Linked DNA regions of Homo sapiens: region 1 is linked to region 2. A link means that fine-mapping ties the variant in region 2 to the expression of a gene that starts in the linked region. Tissue or cell type: monocytes after triphosphate RNA. Region 2 holds a variant in brackets; the other region holds the start of a gene. All regions are shown on one strand. Distances are from middle to middle.

Region 1 (10,824 bases), 38 kb before region 2:
AGGCCAGGAGTTCAAGACCATCCTGGTCAACACAGTGAAAGCCCATATCTTAAAAAAAAAAAATCACAGTCTTGCTGCAAGTGTAAACCCACTGGGAATTCAAAGATTTATACTTGGTAGGGACATTTTCTAAAAATTTATTTTTTATTACAGTCTGCCTATGTAGATTAAACTGCACGCTCTTAAGTATACAGGTTGATGAATTTTTACATTTGTACACATCTGTGTCTTAACAACCCAATTCAAGATATTAGAACATTTGCAGGCCTACAGAAGCCCCCCTGGACCCCTTCCCAGGCAATACACCCTCTCTCCACCCCGAAAAATGTTGGCCACTCTTCTGACCTCTATCTTGATAGAGACATTTTCTAGGAGAAGAAAATGATTAGATAATCACTGTTAGACAAAATAGAAAAGAAAAGAATGTTCCGTTAAAGGTCACTGCACTCTTGACTGACAAATGACCATCAACTGAGTGAGTAGAAAGCTAGTTTCCCAGTGTAAATCTCAATGCTCTTAAATTTCAAAAGAAAAATGCTCAATGCTCGAGCATTTATCAGAAATGCTAGTTTCTTTCCAGAAGGAGGTTCTTACAGAAAGATATGGTCTCAGGCCAGGTTTGAGAGCATTTTCCTTTTATGGGAGCAAGGGAGGAAAGAATGGAGGGGATCCAGGACTGAGACCCCACACCCATTTCCACTATCCACAGCCTAGTGTTTATGATATAGGGACAGGCACACAAAGAATAGTCGGAGTTTCAGCCCATCCCTCCCTTGTCAGGCATCCCGCTGCTGAGACCTTGTAGGTCCAGGGGTTCTGATGCAACATTCTGCATCTCTTGCTCATTGATTTCATGTCTGATTGTCATGAGAAAACTGTGTAAGGGGCTGCTGGACTGTAAGAAACTCTCAAAAGGGTGCTGTGCCTTCCAGGATCAGCTGTTTCCCTGCAGGCTTCCTCTTAATTAAGCATCCTGCTCAGTATGTGTTTGTAGAAAGAGACAAGTTGCTCCAGAATGTTCTAGCAGAAATATCTCAGCCTTAGGAGTTCAAGACCGGTCCTGGCAACATAGCGAGACCCCTGTCTCTGTGAAAAAAAAAAAAATTTTAAGTAGCCAGGCATGGTGTCATGCTCCTGCAGTCCCAGCAACTAAGGAGACTAAGATGGGAGGATCATTTTAGCACAGAAGGTCAAGGCTGCAGTGAGCAATGATTGTGCCACTGCACTCCAGCCTGGGAAACAGAGCAAGAACTTGTCTCAAAAAAAAAAAAAAAAATTCTACACACACACACACACACACACACACACAAAGACACACACACAGCTTCATTTGAGCCTTTGCCTTGCAAGGGGGAGGGGGTTATTGTTTACAGTTGACAACTACCAAGTAGCACTGGGCTTTAGCAGAGAAAGGGAATTTATTACAGTGATAAAGGGATGCCTCCAAGAGTGGACAACCCACTGGGCCTTGGAAAGGGTCTGGAGCTGGAAGCCAGAAAACCATCAGGATTTCCCTGACTCTGCTCTTCTCACTCTCTCATTCCCTCTTTTTCTATACACTGGCTTTTGTCTACCTCTCCAACTCACCTCACAGAATATAGCCATGCGAAATCCCCCTTTCTTCCTAGTTTTAGCCAGCCTCAGAGACTAATTCCAACGCAACACGGTCAAATTAACAAATCGGGCCGGGTGCGGGGGCTCACGCCTGTAATCCTAACACTTTGGGAAGCTGAGGTGGGCAGATCACTTGAGGTCAGGAGTTCGAAACCAGCCTAGCCAACATGGTGAAGCCCCATCTCTAATAAAAACACAAAAAAATTAGCCCGGCATGGTGGCGTGCATCTGTAATCCCAACTACCTGGGAGGCTGAGGCAGGATAATTGTTTGAACTTGGGAGGCAGAGGTTGCAGTGAGCCGAGATCACGCCAGTGCACTCCAGCCTAGGCAATGGATCGAGACTCTGTCTCAAAACAAACAAACAAACAAAAAAAAAACAAAATCAGTAACTCACGGAGTCTCAGTTCACATTCTCAAGAGAGAATTTGATTGGTCCAACCTGAATCCTACGTCCACTGAAGAACGGTAGAACCCACTAGCCATGGCTGTGGGGGTGGGGCGTGCAGCACAAAGGTGGCTGCCAGGGACCCACTCTCTGGCTGGTCAGGCAGTTCCTAGAAAAATCAGACTGGGCAAAGATGCCAGCAATTATCCTTGACTGTGAGGATATTTCCTTTTGGAAAATCCAGTACCCAACTCACAAACAAAGTCCTTCCTGGTACTAAAATACCATGACAAACACTCCTATTGACTTAAAGGGGTTATTCCTCATTCAGCTTTGAACTCCCCACAATGCCTACCCTTTGTCTTCAATCCATGGCTGCTTCTGTATTTTTTTTTAATGTCTTGAAGAGCAACAAACTTTTCTAGCACAAGAAAATCTTTGCATATCATTACATATGTTAAAGGTAGATGGATGGCCAGGTGTGGTGGCTCACTCCTGTAATTCTAGCACTTTGGGAGGCTGAGGTGGGAGGATAGCTTGAGATCAGCCTAAGCAGCAAAGCAAGACCCCGTCTCTACAAAAATACAAAAGTTAGCCCAGTGTGGTGGCGCGTGGCTCTAGTCCCAGCTACTTGGGAGGCTGAGATGGGAGGATCATTTGAGCCCAGGATGTCAAGGCTGCAGTGAGCTGTGATCATACCACTGTACTCCAGCCTGGGCAACAAAGCAAGACCCCGTCTCTCTAAAAAAAAAAAAAAAAAAGGTGGTGGATGGAGGGGGAGAAAAGCCAGGCTAAGGAGGGATTGAAGAGGAAAGACATAAAATGCCCAAATGTTAGGGGTGTGTACCAACTGGATATTAGCCAGAAACTTGAATCATGGCCCTGAAAAGTCTAATACCAGTCAATGCAAAATGAGAATTCTACTTATAAAAGTGTGATTTATATAGTTTTTGATGTGTCTAAAGCATCACCAGCGTTCGTAGAGTTCCTGCCTAATTCCCCCATTCAGTCACCTTAAGCATTGACTCCACTCCCTGTGTTGAACAGAACTAATGGAGAAAGTAATCCACGTAAATGACAGAGGGAAAGAGAAACGATAGAGAATGATAGAGGACAAAACCTTAGATATGAGGGATATTTGAGATTTCTTACGCCAATAAATGTGAAAAATCAAGTAATGGGGCTTTGTTTTCCCAGAAAACGACAACTTGCCAAAGTTGACTCAGGAAGAAATAGAAAAAAAAAAAAAGTCATCAAAAGTCATATAATTTGGCAAAATGGAAAAATATATGCATATCTATATCTATATAGAGAGGGTCTCACTCTCTCACCCAGGCTGGAGTGCAGCACCTGAATCTCGGCTCACTGCAGACTTGACCTCCCTGGCTCAAAGGATCTTCCCACCTCGGCCTCCCAAGTAGCTGAGACTACAGGCACATGCCACCATGCCCGGCTAATTTCTTTTCTTTTGTTTTTTGGTAGAGACAAGGTTTCTCGATGTTGCTTAGGCTGGTCTTGAACTCCTGGCGTCAAGCAATCCTGCCACCTCAGTCTCCCAAAGTGCTAGGATTATAGGAGTGAGCCACTGAGACCAGCCTATTATTAATATTATTATTATATAATACTAGGGAAAGTATAAATATAGACCAGCAATTTCATTTCTAGTGTATACCCTAGAGAAATGTCCATACGTAAGACAAGGAGCCATGTGCAAGGATACTTCCTGCCATATTGTGTGTAATGACAAAAATTTAGTAACAACTTAAAAGTTGTACATGGCATGGAATGAATGAATTAGATCTATAGGCATCATAACAGACCTCAAAAACATAATGTTGGGCCTGGCACAGTCTCTCATGCCTGTAATCTTGGCTACTTGGGAAGCTGAGGTGGGAGGATGGCTTGAGCCCGGGAGGTCTAGGCTACAGTAAGCTATGATTGCACCACTGTACTCTAGCCTGGGTGACAGAGCAACACTCTCTTAAAATAATAATAATAATAATACTGTTGAAATGAGAAAAGCAAGTTTTAGGATATCAGTACAATGTGCTAACATTTATATAAGTGAAAAACATACAGATAACCATTTTAGATATTATTCATAAATTTTATAGTAAAAATGTAAGAAATTATTGGAAAGATACACATCAAATTCATGACAGTTATAGACAGGGGAGAATGGGAGGGGGACTTATTTCTATTTGCAATGGTCTAATAATTTCTATTTGTAATAGTGTGATCTATTTTTTATTTATTTATTTATTTATTTATTTATTTATTTATTTATTTATTTGAGACCGAGTTTCTCACTGTCGCCCAGGCTAGAGTGCAGTGGTGGGATCTCGGCTCGCTGCAACCTCCGCCTCCCGGGTTCAAGCAACTCTCCCGCCTCAGCCTCCCGAGTAGCTGGGATTACAGGCATGTGCCACCACGCCAGGCTAATTTTTGTATTTTTAGTAGAGACGCTTGAACCCAGGAGGCAGAGATTGCAGTGAGCGGAGATCGCACCACTGCACTCCAGCCTAGACAGCAAGAGCGAGACTCCACATCAAAAAAAAAAAAAAAAAAAAAAAAAAAAAAGAAAAGAAAAAAGAAAAGGAAAAAAATGCCACAATACTAAGTCATTAATTTAATGCCAGGTGGTGGCACTATGGATGATAATTTTTTTCTTTGTAATTTTTGTGCATTTTTGTTTTTAATATCTTTGCATATCCACACGGATAGGTATTTTAAAATACAGTCTGGTGAAAAATAACAGCCAATTGCAGATCTATATGAATAATGTGACAATATTTGTGTTCAAATCCATACACAATAAAAACAAAGCTATCTTCTATGGCTATATCTATATATATCCATATAGATATAAACATATAAATTCACAGCAAAAGATCTAGAAAGATATATAGTGTTTTAGTCCATTTTCTGTTGCTTATAACAGAATACCTGAAACTGGGTAATTTGTAAAGAAAAGGAAGTTATTTCTTACAGTTATGGAGTCTGAGAAGTCCAAGGTCAAGAGTGTGCATCTGGTGAGGGCCTTCTTGCTGGTGGGGGACACCTGCAGAGTTCCCAGGCAGTACAAGCCATCATATGGAGGGGGTGCTGAGCTGCTCCCTTGCTAGCTAAGGTCTCTCTCCCTCTTCTTATAAAGCCATCAGTCCCCCTCCCAAGATAACCCATTAATCCATTAACCCATTAATCCATGAATCCATGAAGAGATTAATCCATTCATAAGGGCTCCACCCTCATGATCTAATCACCTCTTAAAGGGCCCACCACACAATACTGCCACATTGGGGATTAAATTTCCAACACATGAAATTTGGGGGACACATTCAAACCATAGTTCATATTAAACAGATAATAATGGTTAGTTACCTCGGCGGAGGGGCCTAGGATGCGAGTCAAGGTCAAAGAGCATTTGTACCTTATCTGCAAAGTTTAAATATTTTGCAATAATTCGCGTGTTATTTGTGTAAGTAAAAATTTAAACATAATTTTTCAGAGACAACTGCCCAGACCAGCTCCAGGGTTTGGCCGTCAGATCCCCTGGTGCATGTTTCTGATCAGATCAATTTCTTCTCCCGGAGACACCCAATCCGGGTCGTATGGATTACCTGTGGGTTAACCAGGGGTCTCCGGGTTAACCATCCAACTCAGAGTAAAGTTTCTAAAAATGCGTTTTGCTCTAATACCTATTCGGAACCAACCTGGGTCTAAAGACTGGAGCAAGTGTTTATTTTCCAAAACACGGCTTTTTAAAATAATTCTATAGGGATCACCTTGAACACACGTTAAGCAAAAAAAAAACCTCAGCGAAAACGCCTCGCAATGTCCAGATTAAATGCAAAAGCAAAAGCATTAAGTAGCTTTCTGGCATAAACATATTGCAGCTGGGTAGCGTGGCCGAGCGGTCTAAGGCGCTGGATTAAGGCTCCAGTCTCTTCGGGGGCGTGGGTTCGAATCCCACCGCTGCCAGGGTTGCTGTCTTTTTGTCCCCGCTGCATACACTCCTGGCTCAGTTTTGCGCGTGCCATCAGCGCCCCCTGCTGCAGGGCGGGGCTCACGGCCTGCATGAATGGCGCGGCGGAGGGGGCGGAGCCGCGTGCACCGGGGCGGGGCATTGTGGGTAAGAGGAAACGCTGGGGCCGGCCCGCTCCCCCCCACGTGTCCGCCGGAGTTTCTCCACCAGCAACATGGCCGCCGCCTGAGAGGAGAGCCGGGCCGCCGCCGTCTCTGCAGCCCGCGGGTAACTGGGCCGTTGCCGCCGTCCGCGCTCGGCCCCCGCGGAGAGGTGAGTCCCGTCTTGGCAGTGCCCGAGCTGGGGCTTGAGCCGGACCGCACTCACGACGTGGGCCTGGGCTAGATTCCCGAGTAGGCCAAGGAGGCCCGCGCCGCGCTGTGCCTAGCAGCTGGAGGCCTCTCGGGACTCGGGCGGGGAGGAGGGGCAGCCGGCTCCAGGCCGACCCCGGACTCTGACTTCCTTGACCTGACACCTGGGAGTTGGGGAGGCCGCGGCCGACGCTGGCGGCGGTGACTCAGGGTCCAGCCGACCTGCCCTATCCGGGCCTGGGAGGCCTCCTACGGAAGAAACACCTGTCCGCGCGTCGGGTGTAGTGGCGGCTCGCGGCAGGGACTGCGTGGTGGGCGTGAGAAGGGGGGCCTGACCACCCGCGAGGGAGCAGAAACCCATTGGACAGCGAGGCTCGGGATCGGCGGCCCGCCCCGATGGGCAGGGAGGGCACCTGCGCCTGCCGGAGCCCCCACTTCGCAGCTGAACCGGATTAGCCTCTGCCCGGCGAGGCCAGGGATTCCTCATTCATTTATTCAGGCAACCATTCAGTGTTTACCGAGCCAACTCTGTGTTCCGGATACAGCCCTGACCATTCGGTCCGAGGAGGTGTCAGTAAACAAACAAGGTCGTTCCTTTGGGTTAGCTTTAGAATTCCTTGGGCTTGGAGGCGGAAAGAAGAGATCTTAGCGATCTCCACAGTTTCCTCATCTGTGAAATAGAGATAATAGAAATTCCTACCTCATAGGGTTGTGGTGACGGCTCAGTAGAAACCGGGTGACGCTCCTGCTTGCAGCGTTTGACTTGTGGCTTAGCGTCATTACCCGCTTACGTTGGCAGAAAACATGTTGTCAAGTAATAACAAACCTTCCCAGAGGTTACGTTTATTAGCGTCCTGTCCTTACTCCTTCCCCGCAGGGGTCTGGAGGTCGGTACTTAGTTTCCCTACTTTAGGGATGAAAATAGGGAGGAATACCAAACCCAGACAACTCAGGTGGGTCACAGATGCCAAGCAGCTGTGGTGGGATTTGAACCTGCACAGTTTTGTTCTCGGGTCCAAGCTCTTACCCACTTAACCATACTGCCGTTTATCAGAAAACCGTGCAGTATAGTGGTTAAGAATAAGAATAAGGATCTTTGACATAGCGAGACCCAAGTTTCTGTCCTCATTCCACCTTGGATGAGTTGCTTATATCTGAACCTCAGTCTCGTCATTTCCAAATTGAAGATGATAAATCTCTATTGATAGGGCTAATGAGAAGATTAAATATAAAGTATTCTTTGTACTATATTGAGTGTCAACTTCGTGCCAGGCACTGTTCTAGGTATTGAGAGAACCAGCACTGGATTTTTTTTTTAAAGTAATGCTCCCCATAACAGCTTTGATGAAGTAAAGTATGATTGTCTGCATTTCATAGTTGAGGAAACTGAAGCACTGAGAAGCCTTCATGGAGCTTACGTTCTATTGCAGAAGACAAACAACACCTGAGCAAATAGACCAGGTAGTTCCAGATTAAGATGAGACCCACCAAGGAAAGAAAACAGAGATGTGGTAGGGCCTGGGAGGAGGCTGGGGGAGGCTTTTAAAATAGGGTGGTCAGGGAACCTATCCTCTCCTGCAGGCGGTGATGATATTTAATAAAAAGGAGCAACCTTGGAAATCCCTGTGGGAGAATAGATGATGTGCAAAGGACCTGGGGTGGACTGGGGCTTGCCTTGTTGGAGGCCCAGCAAGTGGCTACCAGCCTGGATGGTGAGGGGAAGACAGAGACAAGATTATGTAGGGCCTTAGGTGGCTCATGGAAAGGAGTTTGGGTTTTATTTTATGTGACAGTGGCAGTTGACAGGTCTTAGGCAGGGAAATAATATGATTTACTTTTTTTTTTTTTTTTTTTTTGAGATGGAGTCTTGTTCCGTTGCCCAGACTAGAGTGCAGTGGCAAGATCTCGGCTCACTGCAACCTCTGCCTTCTGGGTTCAAGTGATTCTTCTGCCTCAGCCTCCCGAGTAGCTGGGATTACAGGCGTGCATCACCACGCCTGGCTAATTTTTGTATTTTAAGTAGAGACGGGGTTTCACCTTATTGGCCAGGCTTTTCTGGAACTCCTGACCTCAGGTGATCCGCCTGCCTCGGCCTCCCAAAGTGCTGGGATTACAGGTGTGAGCCACCGTGCCTGGCTTTGTTTTCCCCCCAGTAGAGATCGAGTCTCACACTGTGACCCAGGATGGAGCGCAGTGGTGTGATCATAGCTCACTGCAGCCTCAAACTCCTGGGTTCAACCAATCCTGCTGCCTCAGCTTCCCAAGTAGTTGGGACTGCAGGCCATGCCAGGCTAAAATTTTTTTTTAAAGAGAGACCGGGGGGCGGGGGGCGCCTCACTATGTTGCTCAGGCTGGTCTCGAACTCCTGGTCTCAAGCAGTCCTTCCACCTAAGCCTCCCAAAGTGTTGGGATTACCGGCATGAGCCACCATGCCAGCCTGATTTACTTCTTTCCAAAGACTCACTGTTGCTGGGAGACTTGGAGGTAGGTATAAGGAGCCGTAGGGAGACTTGGATGAGTGCTTTTCACATTGCAGGTTAAAATTTATTAGTGGGAAGTAAAATCAATTTAAGGGAATTGAAGCTAGCATTTTTTGTTTTGAATGAAGTAGAAAACATCACGGCCTGACATATAGTAGGGACAGTTATAGTTACGTGAAACCTTGTTTCAGTTATGCAACTGTATGTATGTTCTGGGTTATTTATATGAGATGGATTTCTTACTGTGGTGGATCTTAGGCTGAAAACTTTGAAAGCCACTGAGTTGGATCACCTCGGCCTGGAGGATGAAGGGAGGTGACACTCTTTGTATCAACCCAGATGTACTATCCAGAGGAAGGAGCTCCAGCTCTCTAGCTGACAGGGCACCTCAGCCTCCCTGATCCCTGGCAGGGCAGAGGCCAACAGGGCATAGCAATAGCCAAGAAAGAACAATTGCGTCTTGGGAACCTCCCAGGCCCCAGCCTCTCAGTTGTCCACTGCCCAGCTGCAGAGAAGGCAGGAGCTTGACATATCTGTGGCACTTGGCAGCCGGTGCAGATGGGGTGAGGCCTTGGGCTCTCCGCTCTACACTGCCCTCTGTCTGCACAGCAGACAGTCGAGATGCACTGAAACTGTCCAGATGCGACTCCTGATTTTCATTCCATCCTCCATCTCTGGGACTGTTACGATAGCTGTTTCCCTGAAGTTTCTCTTTCTACCCGCTCCATGTCTTCCTCTGCCCGAAATCCTTCTGTAGCTTCCTATTAAATAGCATTCCCATGGTTCATTTATTTAGACAACAAACATGTATTGAGTGCCTGCTGTGTACTAGGCACTTGGGGTACCACAAGGGACAAAATAGACCAAAATCTCTGCCTTCACATAGCTTACAGCTTAGTGGCAATAGAGATGGGCACAGATGCAGAGCTGTAAACTGTCACATGGTGATAGACACCTGCTATGGAGAAAACCAGAGCAGAGAAGGGAATTGAGGGGTGGGGGAGGCAGTTTGCAATGTGATTTGGAGAGGGAAGGTCTTAGCCACAAGGTGACATTTGAGCAAAAACCGGAAAGAGGTGAAGGGGGGACCATGAGGTTATCGGGGGGGTAGAGCAGCTACAAAGCCCCAGAAGTGGGTTTGGAGCAGAGAGGAGGGTAGGAGGCTTGTGGGAGATGAGGTCTGGCAGGTCAAGGGGCAGGAGATTGTTTAGGGTTTACATGGGATGATAAAGACTTTGGCTTTTGTCTAGGTGTGGTGGCTCATGCCTGTAATCCCAGCACTTTGGGAGGCCAACACAGGTGAATCACTTGAGGCCAGGAGTTCGAGACCAGCCTGGCCAATATGGCAAAGCCCCGTCTCTACTGAAAATACAAAAATTAGCTGAGCGGATGGTGCATGCCAATTATTGCAGCTACTTGGGAGGCTGAGGCAGGAGAATCACTTGAACCTAAGAAGCAGAGGTTGCAGTGAGTCAAAATCACGGCAGAGCACTTCAACCTGGGTGACAGAGCAAGACATGTCTTAAAAATAAATAAATATTAGATAGTTCAAATGTTAAGTAGATCAGACAAAAATCATGCTGGTCTCAGCCGGGCGCAGTGGCTCACGCCTGTAATCCCAGCACTTTGGGAAACCAAGGCGGGCAGATCACCTGAGGTCAGGAATTCAAGACTAACCTGGCCAACATGGCAAGTCCCTGTCTCTACTAAAAATAGAAAAATTAGCCGGGCCTGGTGGTGCATGCCTGTAATCCCAGCTACTTGGGAGGCTAAGGCAAGAATCGCTTGAACCCGGGAGGCAGAGGTTGCAGTGAGCCGATCGTACCACCGCACTCCAGCCTGGGTGACAGAGCAAGACTCCGTCTCAAGAAAAAAAAAAAAAAAAATTCATGCTAGTCTCACCCAAGAGCAGAGGTTTGGGAACTGCTGAGGCCTGGGGGTGCCTGAGTACCATCCTACCTATGACCACCCCTCTTCTCTTTGGGTATGTGAAGGGGCAGACCAGCT
Region 2 (10,824 bases):
TGTGAGCCAGCTCCATCAGAATCATCTTTTAAAAAATACAGGCTGGGCGTAGTGGCTCACGCCTGTAATCCCAGCACTTTGGGAGGCCAAGGTGGGTGGATCACCTGAGGTTGGGAGTTTGACACCAGCCTGACCAATATGGTGAAACCCCATCTCTACTAAAAATGCCCATAGTCGTGGGAGGCTGAGACAGAATTGCTTGAACCTGGGAGAGAGAGGTTGCAGTGAACCGAGATTGCACCACTGCACTCCAGACTGGGCGACAGAGCAAGACTGTGTCTCAGAAAGAAAAAAAAAAAAAACATAGATTCAGTTCTGTTCAGTAGGTATGCGGTACTGTCCTAGGTATCTGAATTTCTGTAAAGCTTCCTGAGCAACTCTGATCCAGCCAGGCTTATAGAGCACTGGTGAAGCACATTTCTCAGGCGGCCTCTGGCAGCAGGAATCAAAAGGATTCCTTGTCAGATGTCAGGTCCTGGACTTTTAGGTTAAAGAAATTGGTCATTTTGCCTCTAGTCATACTGTGATGGGGAGGGTCACAGGTGTCCAGTGCCCAGAAATGTGAGTGGAAGCAGCAGCGCCTTGCGTGTGTGTGGTGTAGTCATGGACCCTGCATCCCAGCTTTTCTTAGGCCGTGAACGTACCTAATTTGATGGTCGAAACGCCAGTCGGTCTGACCGTGTCTAGGCCCTGCTCCTAAGGTGTGGGGAGAAGGGAGTCAGCAGAAATCCCACTGAGCTCTCTGTCCCCAGCTGCCTCTTAGGGGAGCCAACTGGCAGGCTGAGGATCTAAGGGGCTGGGGCCTTTTCCTGAGCAAGCTTGAGTGCTTTTGTCCAGAATAGAGGGTATCTGAAATACTTTGATAACAAAAAGGCAAAAAAACAAAAGTCATAAATGCAGATTTTTAAACATCAAATCAGACTAGAAGTTTTAATAGGAAAGCTCTTGCACTGCTGGACCTGACTGCCACCCCTCAGAGGTGACCACTTTTATTACTACTTTTTTAATAGAAACAGGGTCTCACTATGTTGGCCAGGCTAGTCTTGAACTCCTGGCCTCAAGCAGTTCTCCTGCCTCAGCCTCCCAAAGTGCTAGGATCATAGGCATTTACATCACCAAAAGATACCACTAAAATAGCTGCCCCCATTTAAAAAAAAAAATCAGCCTGTCATTAGCAATGGGCTTCCCATTGTGGTGGATGAGATTTAGCTCTCAACTATTTTAGGAGACTGTAGAGATAGATATGTTACGCCAGTTTTTTTTTTTTTTTTGAGATAGATAGCGTCTTGCTCTTGCTCTTGCTCTGTCATCTAGGCCTGGAGTGCAGTGGTGCCATCTCAGCTCACGCCTCTTGCGTTCAAGCGATTCTTGTGCCTCAGCCACCCGGGTAGCTGGGATTACGGGCTTGTGCTGCCTCACCCAGCTAATTTTTGTATTTTTAGTAGAGATCGCGGTGGTAGGGGTCGGGGGGTGGTCCCACCATGTTGGCCAGGCTGGTCTCGAACTCCTGGCCTCAAATGATCTGCCTGCCTTGGCCTTCCAAAGTGCTGGGATTACAAGCGTGAGCCACCACACCAGGCCTTTACCTCTTTTTAATTGGCTATCATTGTTTATAGCATTGTCACAGAATGAACTGAAAATCTATCCATTGTAGAGCCAAACATCAGTAATATACTATGATTGCATTTCCTTGTTCACTGCTTCCTGTTTTCACTTGTGTAATTTTCTGAACACATGTGTACCGAGGGTGATACTTTGCTTAATTAAGCCTGGTTCCCGGGAAGCCTCTCCCTCTGCTTCTCCAGTGAGACTCGCTCTTCCCCATGTCTGTTGCTGAATTCTGGAATCTCTGCTTCTTCCTTGCTTTAGCTTCTGAAGAGACAGAGGAGTTGTCTGCATTCTTTCATGTCTTAAAATGGATTACAATACAGTATTACTGTTTGTCTGGGACTAGAATTTTAAGAGGCAAAGGATACTTCATGTAGCAGTCAGCTGTTTACATGAACCATAGCAAAAAAAAAGGAGAATCAAATCCATCTCCTCTTAATGTTTGCAGAAAGATGCAAACAAAACCAGCTAAGTATGGAACAATGTGTGAGGTTATCAAAGTTTCTATTTTTACGTGATCAAATGATTTGCCTCTCAAAATTCTAGTCCTAGACAAATAGTGATACATGAAGCATCCTTTTTTTTTTTTTTTTTTTTTTTTTTTTTTTTTTGAGACAGAGTCTCCCTCTGTCAGCCAGGCTGGAGTGCAATGGCACGATCTCGGCTCACTGCAACCTCCGCCTCAGCCTCCTGAGTAGCTGGGATTATAGGCGTGTGCCACCACGCGTGGCTGATTTTTGTATTTTTAGTAGAGACGGAGTTTCACCACGTTGGACAGGCTGGTCTCGAACTCCTGACCTCAGGTAATCCGCCTGCCTCGGTCTCCCCAAGTGCTGGGATTGCAGGCGTGAGCCTCTGCGCCCGGCATGAAGCATCTTTAAGAGAGTTTCCATTGTTTAAGTTTTCAGAGTTGTTGAAATTCCATAACATTCTCCTTCTTGGTCTTTTAAATTTGGCCTGTATTCTTTCCTTTATGCCAAACTGCAGAATTTTTCATTATTCTGTATATCAGTCAGTGCCATTTCAGCTGTGCCCTGGTGCGGGTCATTATTGTACTAGACAATTGAGTTCTTATAAAATCCTGTGAGTTGTTACTTTTTTTTGTTTTTTTCAGAATTCTTATGACAGATATTAGACATACTGAATCCAATCTTTTCCATTTTTATTTTGGGGTGTAACGTATTTTACGGCATCCTGTTTCATGGATGCAGTGGCATGTTTGTGCATTAAGACTTCACACCAATTTTGACACCCTCTTCTCATCTCCGTGCAGCTTAGATTGTCGCTTCACCTGCTTGCTAAGTCCGATGCACGCCTGCATTTTACCATGCAGAAATATGTTCAAGCCACTCATCCTCTCATGTCTCTTCACCAGTTCTTTTGTTATGCTGGCATATACCTTTGTTTTTATTTATATTCAAGTTTCCAGACATAGCATTAATGCCTTTACTTTTGTGTTTTTATTTCTGTACACTGTCTTGCTGGGTCTCTAGAGATGACTTGGCTCATCTTTAACCAGAGGTGCTGCGTGAGGGTTTTTATCAGAGACTGCAACACAAAGTCAGGTGCATGGCTTGGGTGTCTTGTTTGGGGATGTTTCTCTTTTTAGATCACTGTTTCCCATCATAACGTGTTTTTGCTACTAAAGCATCGACAGGTTTTGCTTGAAATTTTTTCCAAAAATTACCGGGTACGCCGAAACATGATCCAGTCTCGGTTGACTCAAGAGTGTGGAGAAGATCTCAGTAAACAGGAGGTGGATAAAGTACTAAAGGTACATCCATTTTGTGCATAACAAACAATATCAAAGGCTCTGGAAGGGGCTGACAGTGTGTAGAAGGGACTCTAGTGTCTTTGTGTATATGAAATCAGGCTTCCTTGGGACCACTCCCCAGTCAGTCTTGTCTTGAGCAACTGTTAATGATTGATTGATTGGCATTGGTTGGGGAAGGGGGTATGTGCCAGAGGACTGACCCCTTCAAACAATATAGTCACAGTGGTGTCCAAGGGAAAGAATACAGCCATGGATGCTTTGTTTCTCTTTCTGGTTGGGCCAGGCCAGTAATGCCCCTTTCATCCCTCTTCTCTGCTTGTCACTAGAGACAGAAACTAAAAACCATGGCTTCAGGCTGCTAAGAGCCTAAAACAATAGAACAACAAAAAAATATGGTAGGTTGGATGAGCTTGGCAGTGGGTAGGCGTCTTCTAAAATGATAGGGCCTAGTTGAGAATCCTCACTCTACTCTCCCTTGAATTTTGAACTATCTTCTGATTGTTGCCATAGCCACACACATGACTTTCAGTAGAATCCATTCTTAAATTTAGTTTAAAAAGGAATATGATCTGTTTACTATATGAAAGCACCTAATGTACAACCTATAATGCTTTTCTGAAGTGACTGTAGTACAAATACCAACCATATTTGCAGCAACACTGAGAGACAGAAAACTGATGACAATGTCTTGTTTTGATTAAACATCCAGAGCCATATAAGTAATACTGTTTTTTAAGCACCCTTGTTCTGGGCATGTCAGTATCTGTATTTCGTAGACCCCCTTTTTTTTTTTTTTTTTTTTTTTTGAGATGGAGTTTTGCTCTTGTTGCCCAGGCTAGAGTGCAGTAGCACAATCTCGGCTCACCGCAACCTCTACCTCCCAGTTTCAAGCAATTCTCCTGCCTCAGCCTCCTAAGTAGCTGGGATTACAGGTGTGAGCCACCATGCCTGGCCCACCCTCACTTTTAAAATGCCCCTGAGGAATGGCCAGGCGCGGTGGCTCACACCTGTAATCCCAGCGCTTTGGGAGGCTGAGGTGGGTGGGTCACTTGAGGTCAGGAGTTTGAGACCAGCCTGACCAACATGGAGAAACCCCATCTCTACTAAAAATACAAAATTAGCCAGGCGTAGTGGTACATGCCTGTAATCCCAGCTACTTGGGAGGCTGAGGCAGGAGAATCGCTTGAACCTGGGAGGCAGAGGCTGCAGTGAGCCAAGATCATGCCGTTGCACTCCAGCCTGGGTAACAAGAGCAAAACTCTGTTTCAAAAAAAAAAAAAAACACTACCCCTGAGGAAAGGGTGGCTGGTAGTAGCCATGGTGGTATGGTTAGGCAGTTTTTGATTTCCCATTTGTATTCTATTCACTAATCATAAATCGAGTGTTGACATTGTGGACAGAATGTAATTAGCTCCTTTTCCTGCAAAAATCTGTGCTTACCCTGTTTCTCTCTCATAGGACTGCTGTGTAAGCTATGGTGGCATGTGGTACCTTAAAGGGACAGTACAGTCTTGACAATAGTAGCAAACTACTAACCCAGCAAATCTAAGCCCAAGGAAGAAGGGCGGAACCAGAAGTAGGGCCTCGACTTGCTTCAGACGACACAGAGCAAGAGGAACTGACCATCTCATGACCTGTGGCATTGCACGGTGCAGTGGACAGAAGGGATTATCCTCAGCCAGTC[G/A]CAGGGTCAGCTTAAGTTAGTTAGATCACTCCCAGAAGAGACCAGCTGGGACCTTCTTTGCAGTACAATTTGAAATTCCTGATGTATTTTGCTTATTATTTGGTTTCATTCTCATAATAAAGAGAGTGTATACTGACATGGGCAGGATGATAAAAATCATGGTTTAATATTTTCTTTTGTAAACTTAATGCCAACAAGGTCTAAGTTATGTTTACAACATGAAGAAAACCTCAAAGTTCTTAATTTTTAAAATGCCTAGAAGACAATATTTAGTCTTGGATTATCTATCTGCTAAGACCTCCACCAATTTCATTAAACCAAATTGAATTATTCTATTCTTGGGATTCTGTGGCCACTTCACCTTTGACAACAACCTACTTTATGTAGCAGTCTCAACTGTTTACATGAACCATAGCAAAAAAATCAGAATCAAATCCATCTCCTTTTAATGTTTGCAGAAAGATGCAAACAAAACCAGGTAAGTATGGAACAATGTGTAAGTGAGGTTATCACACTTTGATGTAAAAATTTCTATTTTGTGTATTTTTAAAATAAATGCAAACACTAAACTAGCATCATGGTGCTATCTTCAAATGGTTACAGGAAGGCGATCTTGTTGGGCTCAGCGTTACGTGTATCTAGAGGGAACGGAGCTAATGGAGGAAGACAGAGCAGCACTGTCCACTAGAAAGAGGCGAGTCACGTACATAATTTTGAAAGTTTCTAGCAACCACATTAGTTTAAAAAGGTCATGTTAGCATATTATTTAGCTCAAAATATCTAAAACATCAACATAAGGTAAAAGTCTTCAAAATCTGGCATTTTACACTTTCCTCAACACTCAGTTTGGACTAGCCACATCATAAGTGCTCCGATGCCACATGGGGCTATTTGCGACAGTATTGGATAGCACAGCCCTAGAAACTGATGGAAAAAATAAGAGTAAGCTAGGTTGGATGACATGTGAATTTTGGTATCTAGATAAGGCTTTCGCCATCTTTTTTGTACAACACAGTCACTAATTGTCTGAAGGTTTAAATGACGGTCTATGCTATTTCCCCACTCCCCCCAAAATAAAACATCTAATATTTTAGCTATAGAATCACTAAGGCATTGATCAAGGATGTACTTTGCCAAATAAGTATTTGGTAACATCACTTAACAAGTTGATCGTGTATTGATTCTGTTAACATATGTGAACCTGAAAAGTAAAGTTACCAAAAGCGATTTGGAATATGTCTCAGCTTTTCCATCCTACTTCCTTCTCACTTTGAAAGGGGAAATGCTCATGTGGGACGGCACAGAATGTTAGTCCCATCACCTTGCAGAACTTAATTGGCTCAGTGGAGAAGTCAGAGCCTTAAATACTTTACATTGATAAAAAGAACTGGTTAAAACACCAAACTCAAATAGCAAGAAAAAGAAACAAGGAATATAGGAGGGAACTATTGTTTTAAAAAAAATTGAGGGAACTTGGGATGTCAGAATAGGACTTTCCAGCACTCATCCCCCTGCAGAAACATGAATTTAAACAACTGTCCACACACAAAAATACCTTCACAAGAGTTAAGGAACCTCTAGAGATTACAGCACCTTGGTGTACCACAGAAATAAGATGTACTAAAGAGGATAGGAGGGACAATTTTACATTACCTAGCTTACCCCCTCCCCAGCCCCAGGCAGCACAGGGTGGAGAGAGAGAGAGAGAGAGAGAGAGAGAGACCCTCTACTTGGAGGAAGGAGAACATTGGACCCCAAAATCATGCCAGCCCCAGACTCCAGGCCTGCGCCAGGAACACAGGCTCTAAGCATACCCACTGCCAGGCCTGCACCCATGAGCTCACACTCTAGCAGGCACCCCCTCCCCACCCTGGTCCAGCCCCATCTGAGTAAACCCCAGCACTGGGCTGGCCCTCACAGACTAGGCTCCAATATCCCCTGCAGCCCCAGGTTCTAGGCCAGCCCCCATGGCCCCAGGATCCAAGCGAGCCCTCAGAGACTAATCTCCAGGCCAGTATCTATATACCCCTGGCTCCAGGCTGATCTATATGCCCCCATGCCAGCACCCACAATCCCAGGCTCCAGTACAATACCCCTGGACCCAAGGTCCATGTGTGCCTCAGCACCAGGCTCCAGTGGACCCAGGTTCCAGGCACATACCTCAGTAAGCCTCAATGCCAGGCATGCCCTGGCGGACTGAGGCTCCAGAACAGTCCCTATGGACCCAGAACCTAGGCCCACCCCTGCAGGTTTTTAGGCTTCAGGTCAGCTCCCTGGATGCAGGCTCCAGGCCTGCCCTTGTGGACTCAGGCTCTGGTTGTACCCCTGCAGACCCAATCAACTGGCCCACTCCACTGGACCTACGTTCCAGGATTAATCCTATGCATGCAAGCACCAGGCTCATCCATCTGCTGACCTAGGTACTAGGTCAGCCTGCTCAAGGACTCCAGCAACAAGCCTGCCCACAGAAGACCACACCAGACAACTTGCCCAGAATCTCTGAATGGGCTCACTGGTAAACGGCTGTTCCAGGCAAAGTCAGACTGCAAAGATTAGAATCAGTCCTTACCACTTCATCCAATGTACAGACATCAACATATGACCACAAGGATCAAGAACAATCAGGGAGACATGCTATCACCAAAGTAACAAAATAAAGCACCAGAAATCTACCCTAAAGAAATGGAGATTTATGAACTGCCTGACAACTCAAAATAGTTTTAAGGAAGTTCAGCAAACTTCAAGAAAATACACAGATATAACTCAACAAAATAAAGAAAACCAAATCAAGAAACCTAATAGATTGAAGTTATATATTTTTTACAAACCATTCTGAAGCTGAAAAATAATATGAATGAAATGAAAAATGGAATAGTGAGCATCAACAGAATTGATCAAGCAGAGAATCTATGAACTCAAAGACAGATTATTTGAAAATATAGCCAGAAGAACAAAAAGAATGAAAAGGAATGAAGAAAGCTTAAGGGATTTATAGGACAGCATCAAAAGAGCAAATATTTGAGTTATAGAAGTTCAGTAAGGAGAAGAAAGAAATAAATCACAAAATAGTAGCAGAAAACCTTCCAGATCTGGAGAAAGATATAAATATCCAGGTATAAGAGTATCAAAAGTCTCCAATCAGATTCAGTATGAACAAAACTATACCACGACACATTATAATGAAATTGTCAAAAATCAAAAGACAAAGGGGAAGATCCTAAAAGCAGCTAGAGAAAAGAAGCAGATCACATATAAGGGAGTTCCAATAAGGCTAGCACTTCTCAGCAGAAACCTTACAGGCCAGGAGAGAGTAGGATGATATATTCAGAGTGCTAAAGGAGAACAAATTGCCAACCATGAATACTTTATCCAGCAAAACTTCAGAAATGGAGAAAAAGACATTCCCAGACAGACAAAAGCTGAAGCATTTCATCATCACCAGCTCTGTGTTTACAAAAAAATGTGAAAGGGAGTTCAAGCTGGTAGAAAAGGATGTTAATTAGTAACATGAAAACATATGAAAGTATAAACCTGGTAAAAGCATAATGTCAAACTCAAGAATACTCTAATACTGTAATGGTGGTATATATATTGCTTATCTTTAGTATAAAGGTTAAAAGATAAAACTATTAATAGCTAATTTGTTAAGGGATACAAAATATAAAACTTGTAAATTGTGACCTCAAAAACAAAATGTGGGAGAGAGAATAAAGTATAGTTTTTAATGCAATCAAAGTTATCTGCTTAAAATAGTCTGCTATCACTGTGTTTTACATAAGCTTCATGATAACCACAAAGCAAAAACCTATAGCAGATATGCAAAAGATAAAAAGGAATCAAAGCATACCTCTAAAGAAAATAAATCACAAAGGAAGACAGTAAGAGAGAAACAAAGGATCTACAAAACAACCAGAAAACAACAAAATTGCAGTAGTAACTCCTTACCTACCAACAGGGATAGGTAAGGAGTTACTACTGTGAATGTAAATGGATTAAATTCTCCAATCCATTTACTGTGAATGTAAATGGTTTAACTCTTCCATAATCCAAAAACGGAGTGGCTGGATTAAAAAAAAAAAAAAGATCTAACTATATGCTGCCAAAAAGTGTCTCATTTAACCTGTAAGGGACACATAGAGACTGAAAGTGAAGGAATGGAAAATGGCATTTCATGCAAATAGAAACCAAAAGAGAACAAGAGAGCTATACTTACATTAGATAAAACAAACTTTAAGTCAAAACTGTAAAATGAGACAAGGTCACAGTATAATGATAAAGGGGTCACTTAACAACTGTAAATATTCACTCAATATCTGAGCACCTAAATATAGAAAGCAAATATGAATAGCTCTGAATGGAGAGACAGACTGTAATACAATAATAGTAGGGGATTTCAATATCCCACTTTCAGTAATGGACAGATCAAGGCCAAAAAAAAAAAAAAAAATCAATAAGAAAGCATCAGATTTTACACATTAAACAAAATGGACCTACCATATACAGGAGATTCCATCCAACAGCAGAATACACATTCTTCTCGAGCATACATGGAATATTCTCCAGGACAGATCATATATTAGGGCGGTATCTTTTCTGACCACAATGGTATGAAACTAGAAATCAGTAACAGGAGGAATTTCAGAAAATTTACAAATACGTGGAAATTAAACATGCTCCTGAACAACAAATAGGCCAATGAAAAAAACTAAAAGGAAAAATTTTAAAAATATCTTGAGACAAAAATGGACACAAAACATGAAATACAACAAAAGCAGCTCTGAGACAGAAGTTTATAGCAATCCCCACCCACATCAGAAAGAAAAGACTTCAGATAAACAACCCAATGTTACACCTCAAGGCACCAGGAAAATAAAAAGAACTAGGCCCAGTTAATAAAAGGAAATAGGCCAGGTGAGGTGGCTCACACCTGTAATCCCAGCACTTTGGGAGGCCAAGGTGGGCAGATCACCTGAGGTCAGGGGTTTGAGACTAGCCTGACCAACATGGAAAAACCCCATCTCTACTAAAAATGCAAAAAAATTAGCCATGTATGGTGACACGCTCCTATAGTCCCAGCTACTCGGGAGGCTGAGGCAGAAGAATCGCTTGAACCTGGGAGACGGAGGTTGCAGTGAGATGAGATTACGCTACTGCACTCCAGCCTGGGTAACAGAGCAAGACTCCATCTCAAAAATACATACATATATACATAAATGGAAATAATAAAGACCAGAGCAAGACTACGTCTCAAAAATAAATAAAAGAAAGGAAATAGTAAAGACCAGAGCTGAAAAAAATGAAAAGATCAACAAAATTCAGTTGGTTTCTTGAAAAGATAAAATTGACAAACTTCTAGCTAAGAAAAAATAGAGAAGACTCTCATAGAATTAGAAATGGAAAAAGATAATCCCAGCACTTTGGGAGGCCAAGGCAGGTGGATCACCTGAGGTCAGGAGTTTGAGATCAGCCTGGTCAATATGGTGAACCCCATCTCTACTAAAAAATACAAAAATTTGCTGGGCATGGTGGCAGGCACCTGTAATCCCAGCTACTTGGGAGGCTGAGGTAGGAGAATCACTTGAGCCTGGGAAGGGAATGTTGTAGTGAGCTGAGATCCCACCACTGCACTCCAGCTTGGGCGATAAGAGTGAGACCTTGTAAGAAAGAAAGAAAGAAAGGAAAGAAGGGAGAGGGAGAAGGGAAGACATTACAACTGATTCCATAGAAATACAAAGGATCAGGCCAGGCACGGTGGCTC

What was found. PIP is the estimated chance that this variant, and not a neighbour inherited with it, causes the effect.
Region 1: it holds the start of POLR3E, and the variant in region 2 is fine-mapped to the expression of POLR3E in monocytes after triphosphate RNA (Kim-Hellmuth 2017, PIP 0.95). The same link has a PIP of 0.9 or more in B cells, CD8 T cells, NK cells, monocytes and monocytes after interferon gamma.

The regions. Positions count from the first base shown.
Region 1 is chr16:22,291,239-22,302,062 of GRCh38, forward strand. POLR3E (RNA polymerase III subunit E) reads left to right here and starts at 6,171. Exons shown (of 21, transcript NM_018119.4): 1 at 6,171-6,299. TRL-AAG2-4 (tRNA-Leu (anticodon AAG) 2-4) reads left to right here and starts at 5,902; the gene lies at 5,902-5,983. RefSeq lists silencers at 5,792-6,241, 7,252-7,391, 9,250-9,544 and enhancers at 5,915-6,459, 6,902-7,041.
Region 2 is chr16:22,328,804-22,339,627 of GRCh38, forward strand. POLR3E (RNA polymerase III subunit E) reads left to right here. Exons shown (of 21, transcript NM_018119.4): 20 at 3,257-3,382; 21 at 4,841-6,293. The coding sequence ends at 4,897. It overlaps LOC124903664 (a long non-coding RNA gene), which reads right to left. Exons shown (of 2, transcript XR_007065026.1): 2 at 5,107-9,679. Among named protein-coding and RNA genes, the nearest start is that of POLR3E, 37 kb to the left of the region's middle. The variant G/A (reference allele first, on the strand shown) is at 5,067.